2 separate regions of the Homo sapiens genome follow, and region 1 is linked to region 2. Evidence: fine-mapped expression QTL. Tissue or cell type: left ventricle. Region 2 holds a variant in brackets; the other region holds the start of a gene. All regions are shown on one strand. Distances are between the middles of the regions.

What was found.
Region 1: it holds the start of ERAP1, and the variant in region 2 is fine-mapped to the expression of ERAP1 in left ventricle (GTEx, PIP above 0.99). The same link has a PIP of 0.9 or more in spinal cord, subcutaneous fat and visceral fat.

What each region holds. Positions count from the first base shown.
Region 1 is chr5:96,805,717-96,811,212 of GRCh38, forward strand. It overlaps ERAP1 (endoplasmic reticulum aminopeptidase 1), which reads right to left and starts at 2,229. Exons shown (of 19, transcript NM_001040458.3): 1 at 2,144-2,229. It overlaps LOC124901033 (a long non-coding RNA gene), which reads left to right and starts at 1,742. Exons shown (of 3, transcript XR_007058879.1): 1 at 1,742-2,861. RefSeq lists a silencer at 1,650-2,109 and enhancers at 1,682-2,183, 2,184-2,683, 2,840-2,909.
Region 2 is chr5:96,778,925-96,784,139 of GRCh38, forward strand. It overlaps ERAP1 (endoplasmic reticulum aminopeptidase 1), which reads right to left. Exons shown (of 19, transcript NM_001040458.3): 14 at 5,000-5,156; 15 at 4,127-4,311; 16 at 2,769-2,930; 17 at 2,134-2,274; 18 at 1,499-1,580. It overlaps LOC124901031 (a long non-coding RNA gene), which reads left to right and starts at 5,156. Exons shown (of 2, transcript XR_007058877.1): 1 at 5,156-5,215. RefSeq lists an enhancer at 1,448-2,647. The variant G/A (reference allele first, on the strand shown) is at 2,312.

The DNA of each region.
Region 1 (5,496 bases), 27 kb after region 2:
AATGGAACTTGTGTTTTGCTTTCCATATGGAATTACTGGCAGCAACAGCTTAATGAGCATCGCCCCTGCCCCAAGACGGGATCCAGAGGACTCTGTGAAGGTGGCAGGTTCAAGCATGTAAGGACTCTGAAAGTCCCCGAGACCTCTCCAACAGCCCCAGAGAAGATCTAGAAATTCCAACTCGTTATGAGCTGACAGAAAGGCTGATGTGCTGCGGAAGGGGTTGGTACCGGGACCTTGGATCAGAGGCTTTGCAGGGTTGGGTCCATGAGGGGTCCAAAGAGAAACAGTTATGTCTCAACGAGGATGCAGTGCATGAGTGGGGCTTGGTAAAAACTCCATGTAGTGAATAAAGGGCTTCACTAATAAATTCTCTTATTAATCCCAAACTGTAGGCTACATCCAAGATTCTGTGATCATGTTCGTGTGTTTGGCTCTTCCCCTGAAAAATTAGCTCTTGTTTGGCTTTGCTTCCAATAGTAAGTGTTCCAGTTTGAAACATGGCATTTCATGGTTCTGGCTGGTCTCCTAGGGTCTGGTTTTACTAACAATTTTCTGAAAGGGAGGCAGTTAAAAAAAAAGAAAGCTCTCAAAAACAGTAGTCTACTCAATATAAGCAGCTCTTCCCAAGAGAAGTACAATTCTCTTTGAAGTTACACTCCACTAACACTTAAAGGAATAGAAGCCAAGGAGGAAAAAGAACTAATATTTACTAAGCTCCTCCAAAGTGCCAGGCACTTTACACATGCTCACTCTCTCTAATAGCCTATTATTCTCATTCAAGGTGGGGTAACTGAAGCAAAGAACCATTCATGTAACTTTGCTAAGTTCACACAACTTGTTGGAATGCAATCCACATCTGTGTGAGTATAAACTCCCTGCTTTTTCAGCTTCACCAAGATCCCTCTTTTTTTTTTTTTTTTTTTTTTTTGAGACGGAGTCTCGCTCTGTCTCCCAGGCTGGAGTGCAGTGGTGCGATCTTGGCTCACTGCAACCTCTGCCTCCCTTCCTTTTATTGGGGCACTATAGTATATGAAATAGATCATCAAGAAGTAATTGAGGTTCTTCCAGAATTTCCTGAACAATGAAATTAACAAGCACTGTTGGTAAATAATAAAAATGCTGGATTAATTTGAAAAAAAAAAAAGTACTAGAATGTTTCTATTCAGGCCGCACCTGAAAATGTGCTACTTATACTAATTAAAAATCCTCAGGCAAGAGACAACTGTGCCCAATTTTCAAGTTTTTTGTTTTGTTTTGTTTTGTTTTGTTGTTTTGTTAATTGTTGACCACGTCCTGAGTTCAGAGCGAATCCTCTGGGTGTTTAATAGGAAACAGATAATTTCTTTCTGAACCTAGCCTACACAAAGAAATCCAAAAGCGTGAGGAAGTGTGTGCTCTCCCCCTTCCCCTCATGGAATTAACTTTGTAGGACCACCTGGCCAGTGAGGCACCCAGATAGGAAACTTTTAATTTGCGTCAACAGAGGTGCTTTATCTGAATAAAACCCAGCCAGAGCCAGAGCGAAGGGGAGAGAGAGAATTGCTGACCAGAAGAACAGGAGAAGCAGGGAGGGAAGTGACCTTAAGAACACACACGGCCCGCGCATCCCACCCCACCAGAGTCTTTAACCCAAAGCCTCTGGGTTTCTCTAGCAGCTATGGGCAGGTGCCCTCCTCAGCCCGAGCCAGCTGCCCGCCCCACCCCGCCTTTTGGCCTCGCGCGGGCGTCGGTGGCCTGCAGGACTGGCAGGCATCCAGGCGCCAGGCGGAGCGCTGAGGGAGGCTCCCGCCGGCCGAACAGCGGGGAGACCCGTGAAGCAGGCGCACCGGCCACGCGCCCGGAGGGACAGGGACAGGGACCGGCAGGGGTGGGCCCGCCGCCAACCCGCCGGGCACCCCGCGGACTCGGGCCTAGCCAGCGACTCCCCCCGCCCTTCCCGCGCCCTGTCTCGCGCCCCGTCGCCTTCCTCCCGCGCCCCGTCGCCTTCCTCCCGCGCCCCGTCTCCCTCCTCCCGTGCCCCGTCTCCCTCCTCCCGTGCCCCAGGCCCTCAGCCCCCCACTTGACGGGCGCAGGGAAGGGGCGGGTGCCGCGCTCTCCTCCCGGCCCGCAGTCCCCTACCCGCGGCTCGAGCGCGCTGTACCTGGGGTTCTGGGGCCGCCCTCACCCTTGCGCCGCCGCCACCACCACTGCCGCCGGCCTAGCTCCCCCAGGACCGAAAGTGAAAGTGGAGCCCGGGGAGCGGCAGGCTGGCGCTGAGCGGCGCTTCGGCCCGAGCCCTAGCGGCAGGCGGGGAAGCCCCTGGCTAAGGCGGGAGCTGGGGAAAGGGTAAACGGGAGTGGGGCCGAGCGAGGGAAGCCGCAACTCCCAGGAAGGGAATTGGTAAATGAGCGCTGCACGCCGGGGAAGCTGCGAGGTTGCGATGCGGGGGATCAGGCGTAGGAAGTGCACGCCTTTCTGAACGCGGATCCGTGTGTGTGTGTGTGTGTGTGTGTGTGTGTGTGTGTGTGTGTGTGTGTGTGTGTGTGTGTGTGTGTGTGTGTGTTGAGATGCTTTTTGTTTTTGTCTTTTTTTTTTTTTCACTGTTTAGCGTTGCGAGGGTTAGGGGCATGCAGGAAAGGGCCGGTGCTCAAGTTGGGGACCGAAGCCAGGCAGGCGCTGACAAGTCCACCAAGCCTAGACGCGTTCGACGCCCATTGGACTCGCTGGGTGTCCGTCATCTCGCCACTGCCAGTGGGCTGAGAGCTCTTGGCCCGCCTCGGAAAGAAACATGAACCCAGTACTCTGTCGTGGCAAAGTGCCGCACCTTCTGGGGCTTCGGTAGAGAATGACTACAGTGGGAGATGCTGTAGAGGAGGAAGGTGGGTTAGAGGTGGCCCCCAGGACTTTCCTGCACTACCAAGGGCCACTGTACCCCAAGGATTAGCTGCTTCCCGCATCAACACGTTCCCTCTGATTTTTCAAAGTAAATGACCATTTCTTCACTCCCCTTAGAACAATTAAAGCTGAATAAAATGGCCAAAAAGACCATCTTTAAACAGTTGAGGCTAAATGAGGTAACAAGTCAAGAAAACACAAACATTAAAACACCAAATGCTACAAGTTTATTACCGAAAATGGGTCCCGATCCAGACCCCAAGAGAGGGTTCTTGGATTTTGCGCAAGAAAGAATTTGAGGGGAGTCCATGGAGTAAAGTGAAAGCAAGTAATTAAGAAACTAAAGGAATAAAAGAATGGCTACTCATAGGCAGAGCACCCCCAAGGGCTGTTGGTTGTCCATTTTTAGGGTTATTTCTTGATTATATGCTAAGCGGGGGAAATTATTCATGCCTCCCCTTTTTAGACCATATAGGGTAGCTTCCCGACGTTGCAGTGGCATTTGTAAACTGTCATGGAGCTGGTGAGACCGTAGCAGTGACGACCAGAGGACACTCTCATTGCCATCCTGGTTTTGGTGGGTTTTGGCCAGCTTCCTTACTGCAACCTGTTTTATCAGCAAGGTCTTTATGACCTGTGTCTTGTGCCTACCTTCTATCTCATTCTGTGACTTAGAATGTCTAACCTCCTGGGAGTGTAGCCCAGTAGGTCTCAGCCTTATTTTACCCAGCTCCTATTCAAGATGGAGTTGCTCTGGTTCAAACGTCTCTGATAATTTGGTGAGTGGACCATGGTCCTAGTGGGAACAGGACCCTTTTCATGCGGTTCTCAGACTTTCTTCTCCCACTTCTTTATTGGCCTTCTTCCCTTTGAGAACTGGGGATTCCAAGTCACTGCAACAGTATTTCTCTTTTTTTTTCAATATTATGTTTCCTTTTTAAAAATATAATGTTTCATACTGCCTATTATCTCTAGTCAAGGACATTTTATAATATAAAGATTAACACCCTGTTCCAAGACTCAACTACGGTGGGATCCAGGGAAGTTTTTTTCACTAAAATTCAACAAGAAATGAGGACTTTGAGATCTGGTAATTTCTGCATGTTCAGAATTTGACAGGAGGTATCAATGGATAGCGTGTAGCCTCCAAGACCTCCAGACATCTCGGAGTGCTCCCAGTTTACTCAAGATGAGACCTCTTTGTCCAGTAAATGTATGCATTTCTTTGCTTTTATATTTATATTTTTGAATATGATGGTTTTCCTTTGGCTTCTAGTAAAGTTTTTTTGTTTTTGTTTTTGTTTTTTGTTTATGTGTCTTTTTAAATACATATTGAAAGTCCAGCTGGCAGAACTGAATGCACCCAACAGGCTGGAGGTTAATACAGAAGACAGCTGAGGAGACAAACAGGGCAATGCCCTGAATGGATGTGGGCAGAAAGGAGCTGAAGTGTAGGCGAGGAGAGAGCTGACACCACCACCCGCTCCACGCCGTTTCCCCAAAAGCTCACCCTGACTCAGACTTTAGCCTGTCGCCCTGGCCGTGATTTCGTCTTTAGAGTTGAAGTGCACTACAAAGAGCGATAAGTCAGAGGATTTGGCAGCATTCACTTCTAGTTTCAAAGCCCTAGCAGGGATGTAGAGGACACAGACCTTGGAGTAAGGACTTTAAGGAGTCCTAGTTCTAGAGCCTGTGAGATCAAAACAGCACATTACCGAGCTTAGAAATGGTTAGAAGGAAGGGAACAGAGAGAAAGGGTACCTAGGTTTATTGATTCCCTACCAACTGTTAGATACTGTTAAATGCTAGCTATGTGTGCATGTGTGTGTTTATAATTTGATCTCTTCAGCAACCCTGTAATGTAGATATTATGCTTTATAGATGAGAAAAATGAGACAGGTCGGCAACTTGCTCAGAGTCAAAGAGAAAACACACACTAATTCTACTCACATTGCATTGGCCAGAACAAGGAGGGGTTGGTAAACACTAATATTGTATACCATATAGTGTAGGAGGGCTGGTTGGCCGGTTGAGCCCATCCATTGCAGAGGCTTCTCAGTGTCCTTAGTCCCAGAGGTGAGCCAGAGGAATGAGGAGAATTTCAGGCCTAGGCCAATGAAATACATACCACTTTGAGCTATTACTGATCTACTTAAAAAATATTGAATTCTAGATATTGTCAAGTGATGTTCAATTTTGCTGTAATTGATTGATTCAGTTCTGCTTTCATTAGCTTTTAGTCAATTAATGTCAGCGTTTGGCTCATTTCTTCTGTTTTGCTGCCAAAGCTGCTCCTATTTTAATCATATTACCACTCTCCTTTTTGATGTAAAATCTCATCCAGAATCATGGTGTAGAAAACAGACAAAAGCAGGCCTGCTCTTATTAAACAGGGCAGCTCCACCCAGTCAGCCTTGCCCACTGCTATCCGGCCCTTCCACACACATTGTGGTCCTTGAGACTCTTCCATAGGCTCCCAGGGCCTTAGAACTTAATTTTTTTAAATGCCAATTTAAAAAAAAATAATAATGCCCCTCATTCTTGATATTCTTGATAAAGAGGATGACTTTTTTCCCCCTCTGTGCCAAGTTGCAGAGCAGGCTTGCTTAACAAAAGCAA
Region 2 (5,215 bases):
CTCCATTATGATAACATCTCGGGCTCTTTACTTTTCATGCCCTGCTTCAGGATCTTCGCACCTGATATTTCCTCTGCACACAATACTCCTCTAGATGTTGGCATTTCCTTCGATATCTTCTCAAATGTCTCCTAATCATCCTATAAAACAGCACCAACCCTCTATCCCAATCACTCTCCTTGCCTTATTCATCTTCAGAGCATGTAACTACTTGACATTGGTTGATTTGTCTGTAATTGTCTGATTCCCACAGCAGAAATTTCAGCTCCGTGACAGCAAAGGTTTTGTCTGTCTGTTCACTGTTACAGCCCCATAACCTAAAACCATGTGTGGCATATATGTCTTGAATGAATTAATGAGAATACAAGTGAATGAATGAAATGCTTTGTTGCTATAGATCTTGTCTATAGATGACTACCTTTCTGGTCAAGGCTTTGGACATCTCTTCAGTCATCAGACAGAGTATCTCTGCTCTAGACCTCGCTGGAGTTCAAGCTTGAATTATTATATGCAAGTTAATTTTACAAGCCTGGATGAGGCTACTGAAAACTGGAAAAAAGCTACGAGACTGTAACAACCCTTCATTCTTTTTCATTTCCAAAGCTCTCTCCCCATCTCAAGCTAGAAAATAGTGTAACCAGACTACACAATGGAACCACTCCTAAAAAAATTAATATTAGCCTCTCAGCTTTTATCTAAATGTACCACAGTTTAAGAGCCTTGTAAAATTTGTTCCACAACTTTACTATAGGAAACCTTATTATAGAAGGGACACCACAGAACTCAATGGCCCACACATCAAAGTCCTCGAGTTTAGGACTGAAGAAAAGTCTGCTTTTGTAGAAAATGTGTATGCTTCATGTTCTCTTTTACCAGACAATGAGAATAACTCATACTGATTCCTCATTTTTCCTTGACTTCCAGGAATGTCTGTGATAAATTCAGGGGACAATTGCGAGAATTATCCTCAGCCATAAGTCCCTCACATGGTTATCACCTGTCCATTATGTATCTTTTTGTCCTTCATTTTAACATTTCTTTTATACATGGATCTTAAAGCTGCCTGAAATTCTTTCTGAAGGTAGATGGTTACATAATAAGTGACAGGGAACCATGAACTTGGATGGTTTATAAAGAACCTAGATTCCGGACCTGCCTCTTTAGCAACAGCTGGATGACCACTTCAGTCATTTATACCTCAGTGCCCACTTTTAACATCCTTAAACAAGGACTAATTGTCTCAAGTAATTTTCTTCAAGTCCTAAGGTTTTTACTGGCAGAGCTAAGACCTCTTAACGTGTCTGAGAAGAGGCACAGTTTTCACTAGTTTAATTGCAACTGATTTATGCTGCTGTCAACACCATAGCATCCAAAAATAACTTCTAAATGACAATCCATTTCTAACTCACCACACCCTCAAAGTATTTTGTCTACCCCATATTAATTAGCTAATTTTCATTTATGTTTAAAAATATATATATAGATTTTTTTTTTTTACCTCTTCAAGCCGTGTTCTTGTGGAGAATTGATTTGTTGTACCCATTACCATGTGGGCTATGGAAGATGAGCCAAGTTCAAACCTAGAGAGGGAAATATTCAAAAACGGGTTGTGAAATACTTATTCATTTAACATATATTTTAAGGGCCTCCTATATATAATAGCTTTCAGCTAAAAACTGATCGGTGTGAAAAATACAAAATATGATGTCTATCCAATGGGTTAAGATCTAGCTGTAAAGAATAATACACACCAACAGCCTAATAAAAGGTTAAGTATCCAACAGAAAATGACAGAAGCAGGAAATGCTATAAGAGTTAGACAAAGACAGATGTGAACAAGCAAATGTGTTCATGGAAGGCCTGGGCTGAACTGTGAGGAGGAAGGCTTCAGATATGTCCATGGGCTCAGGAAGGGGTTATGCCAGATGGAATGGAAAACATCCCTGTCCAGATTCACTAGTTAGCACTGAAGTCCAGTTTTATGTTTTCTACAAATATTTTAGGTATTTCTACTGCCTATCTTCAATCAAAAAGTACCTTTAGACTGTTACTGTTCTTTTACAAACAGCAAGGCTAAAACACAGTAAGGTTATGAACTTATCCAGTCACAGCACAATTTTTGGCACCACTTACTTTTGTACAAGTTTGTTCCAGTTTTTCCTCAGAAATTGCCAGGCCAGTGGGTATCCTACTGGGTTCCTGCCAATGAGTGTAAGAATTTGTGGAAACTCCTGAGTTTTTATTTTATCTCCCTTAAAGCTTTCATCTAGTAGCCTAGAAGGATTAAGAAAAGAAATGTTAGCAATGAATA[G/A]GTGATGAAACAGTTATGAATCACTGCAATAAAATTACTTGTAAAAGAAAAAAAAGTCTGCCAGTAACAAAGGTTAAAAAGATAAATGGGTAACCACAATCCTGATAAACCCACTATAGCTACATAATAAAAACTAACATTTATATAGTGTTCATAACACCCATTCTCATATACCCTCTCATTTGCTCAAAAGAATAGTTAAGGAAGAGTAGCTCTAGTAAATATTTTTAATATGTTGTCATTTTAAAGATGCACAAATGTATACACCTTTAAATATTTTTCCTAACACCTGGTTCTCCCTAATTATTTGCCTTTCTCATTAGATGTGTGCTGACTTGCAGTATGTTCCCAGCAGGATAGGCAATTCCTGGCCAAGAAAACAAAAATAGATGCCAGAATGATCTAATCTAATCTAATTTCCCTTGGCCACATGAACATGAATGAATGACGGACTCACCATTGAAGCTTTTCCTTATTTTGGGTTCTGCAGAGGGCAAATTCAATTTGGCTTTTCTCAGTACTGGACAAAGAAAACTGATATTTACTATAAAGAAAATCCCAGCCTTCTGTGCTCTGGGCCCCCACAGCAAACACTGCCAAGGTCACGTCGACAGGCAGGCTATAGAAAGGAACACACTCGGTGAGAATCTGAGGTGCAGTAAGTATGTTTAGAGGCATAATGGTGACTAACTATGAACTGCTGAACTTTCCCCATGATCAGAGAAGCATGCCTGGAAATATAAACAAAAACTACTGATTTCCTTCAGTTACAATTTTTTTTTTTTTTTTTTTTAGGACGGAGTCTTGCTCTGTCACCCAGGCTGGAGTGCCGTGGCTCGATATCGGTTCCTGCAAGCTCCGCCCTCCCGGGTTCACGCCATTCTCCTACCTCAGCCTCCCGAGTAGCTGGGACTACAGGCGCCCGCCACCATGCCCGGCTCATTTTTTGTATTTTAGTAGAGACGGGGTTTCACCGTCTTAGCCAGGATGGTCTTGATCCCCTGACCTCGTGATCCACCCACCTCAGCCTCCCAAAGTGCTGGGATTACAGGCGTGAGCCACCGCGCCTGGCCTAGTTACACTTTATAAAAAAAAGGCAAGAGAAAAATATCTAAAATTAGGTTTTAAGTAGCCTTCTCAAAAATGTGAAATGCCATTTTTATAAATACCTACATATTTAAATACTTTAATGATGCTGGGTGACTCCATAGGGGATCACCTTTCAAGCCAAAAGAAATTCAAACTATATTCAAAATTTACACCATGATCACAAGTCAGGACGGCAGTAGGACCACTGTTTGGATTTCTTTAAGCTGAAGCATGTAGGTTGTTGGCATAAATGTTTCCTGGGTGGGGTTTAAGCTCCAAATGTAAAAAGGACTGAAGTGTAGCAAGAATAGGGATTTCCAGATACGGTAAAATCCTACCTTGCTTAGACAGTGTCAGCAATTACTATGCATCCCTGTCAGGGAATTTGGAAGCCCAAAGAAACTACTATAAAATACAATGCATGTGTTTCTCTATGGCATGGCTGTCACCGTTTAATAAGATTTTGCATTGCCTATACAAAATGAGAATTATTCCCATACCATCCTAACTCCCCAGATATTTGACTTTTATGCATAGAAGTTCCCTCCTAGCATTTCTTAAAGTTACGAGATACATAGATAAATCTTAAAAAGCAATTTATTTTCCAGAAAAGGGCAGCAGGGGAGACACTTAAACTTTTTGTTTTCCCTAATGTTTAGTACCAATGATGGAAAACAGAAAAGATGCCCTTCACATCAACAAATTGGTTATTTAGTAAGGACTGACCTCAAGTTTCCATTGGATTCCTTCCACTTTCTGAAATAGCCTTCTGCCCTCTGTACGCACGGCTGATAGTTGTGCACACAGGCGAGGAGTAGTAGTTGACTCCGCAGCATTCGCTCTGAGACTGAGCCCTCGTCTGTCCATGTCTGCTTATCAATGAGGTCCCTTAGCAGCCTGATGAGGAAGGCCTGAGGGCGTTGTACAGGGAAACAGGGACCAGTATTGTCACAGGTCATTTCATGTTAATATAATCCATTATGGTCTCAGATGATGGGGGCTAATTTTTAAAGCATAATCTAACTTTTACTGTATAAATCATGCAGCACTGTTTAATTATAAAAGGGCCAAAAACAATAAATAATGATGAATGACTTTCATATTTTCATAACAAACTTTTATAAGATATCCATCTACTTAAAGTCAGGATGAATTGCGACTTTTAAAACAAACTCAAAGAGAGTTTACATGACTAAATTTTGAGAGCAAATTATGCAACAAGACTTCAGGACATTTTGCCAAGCATAACAATTTTGTGCCTCTTCCTCAAGTACCATGAAGAGTCCCAGAAAATCTGAACGTCAGCCATTGTAATAGGAAAGGAAAATGAAATAAAAGGTTTGTGAAAGGAAGGAAATAACAAATCCATGCAAATTAAATAGAGTCTAAGAATGCCATTCCTATTTTTAGTGCCAAATAAAACCAAAATCTTGCTAGTCCATCTAAATACTGAACTAATATTTATTTGCTTTTCCTTAATATGTATATAAAGATACACACACACACACACACACACACACACACACACACATACACACACAATGATTAACACTTTTTAACACAAATAATAATTACATAACTTTTATTTCAGGCTTTTACCTTGAATTGAGTTTCCACTTCATTCATATCTCTTTTCTCCATTAACTTATACATAGGAATCAGCTCATTCAAACCTTGAAACACGGGCATAATTTCAGTTTCATGTTTCAAGTACAGGGATAAATCCAAGGCCTTTTCAATGGACAGCTTCCCAATGCTGACCAAGAGACACTGTGGTTAGTGGTTTAAAAGTAAATCCGGGAAGTCAACTTTTTG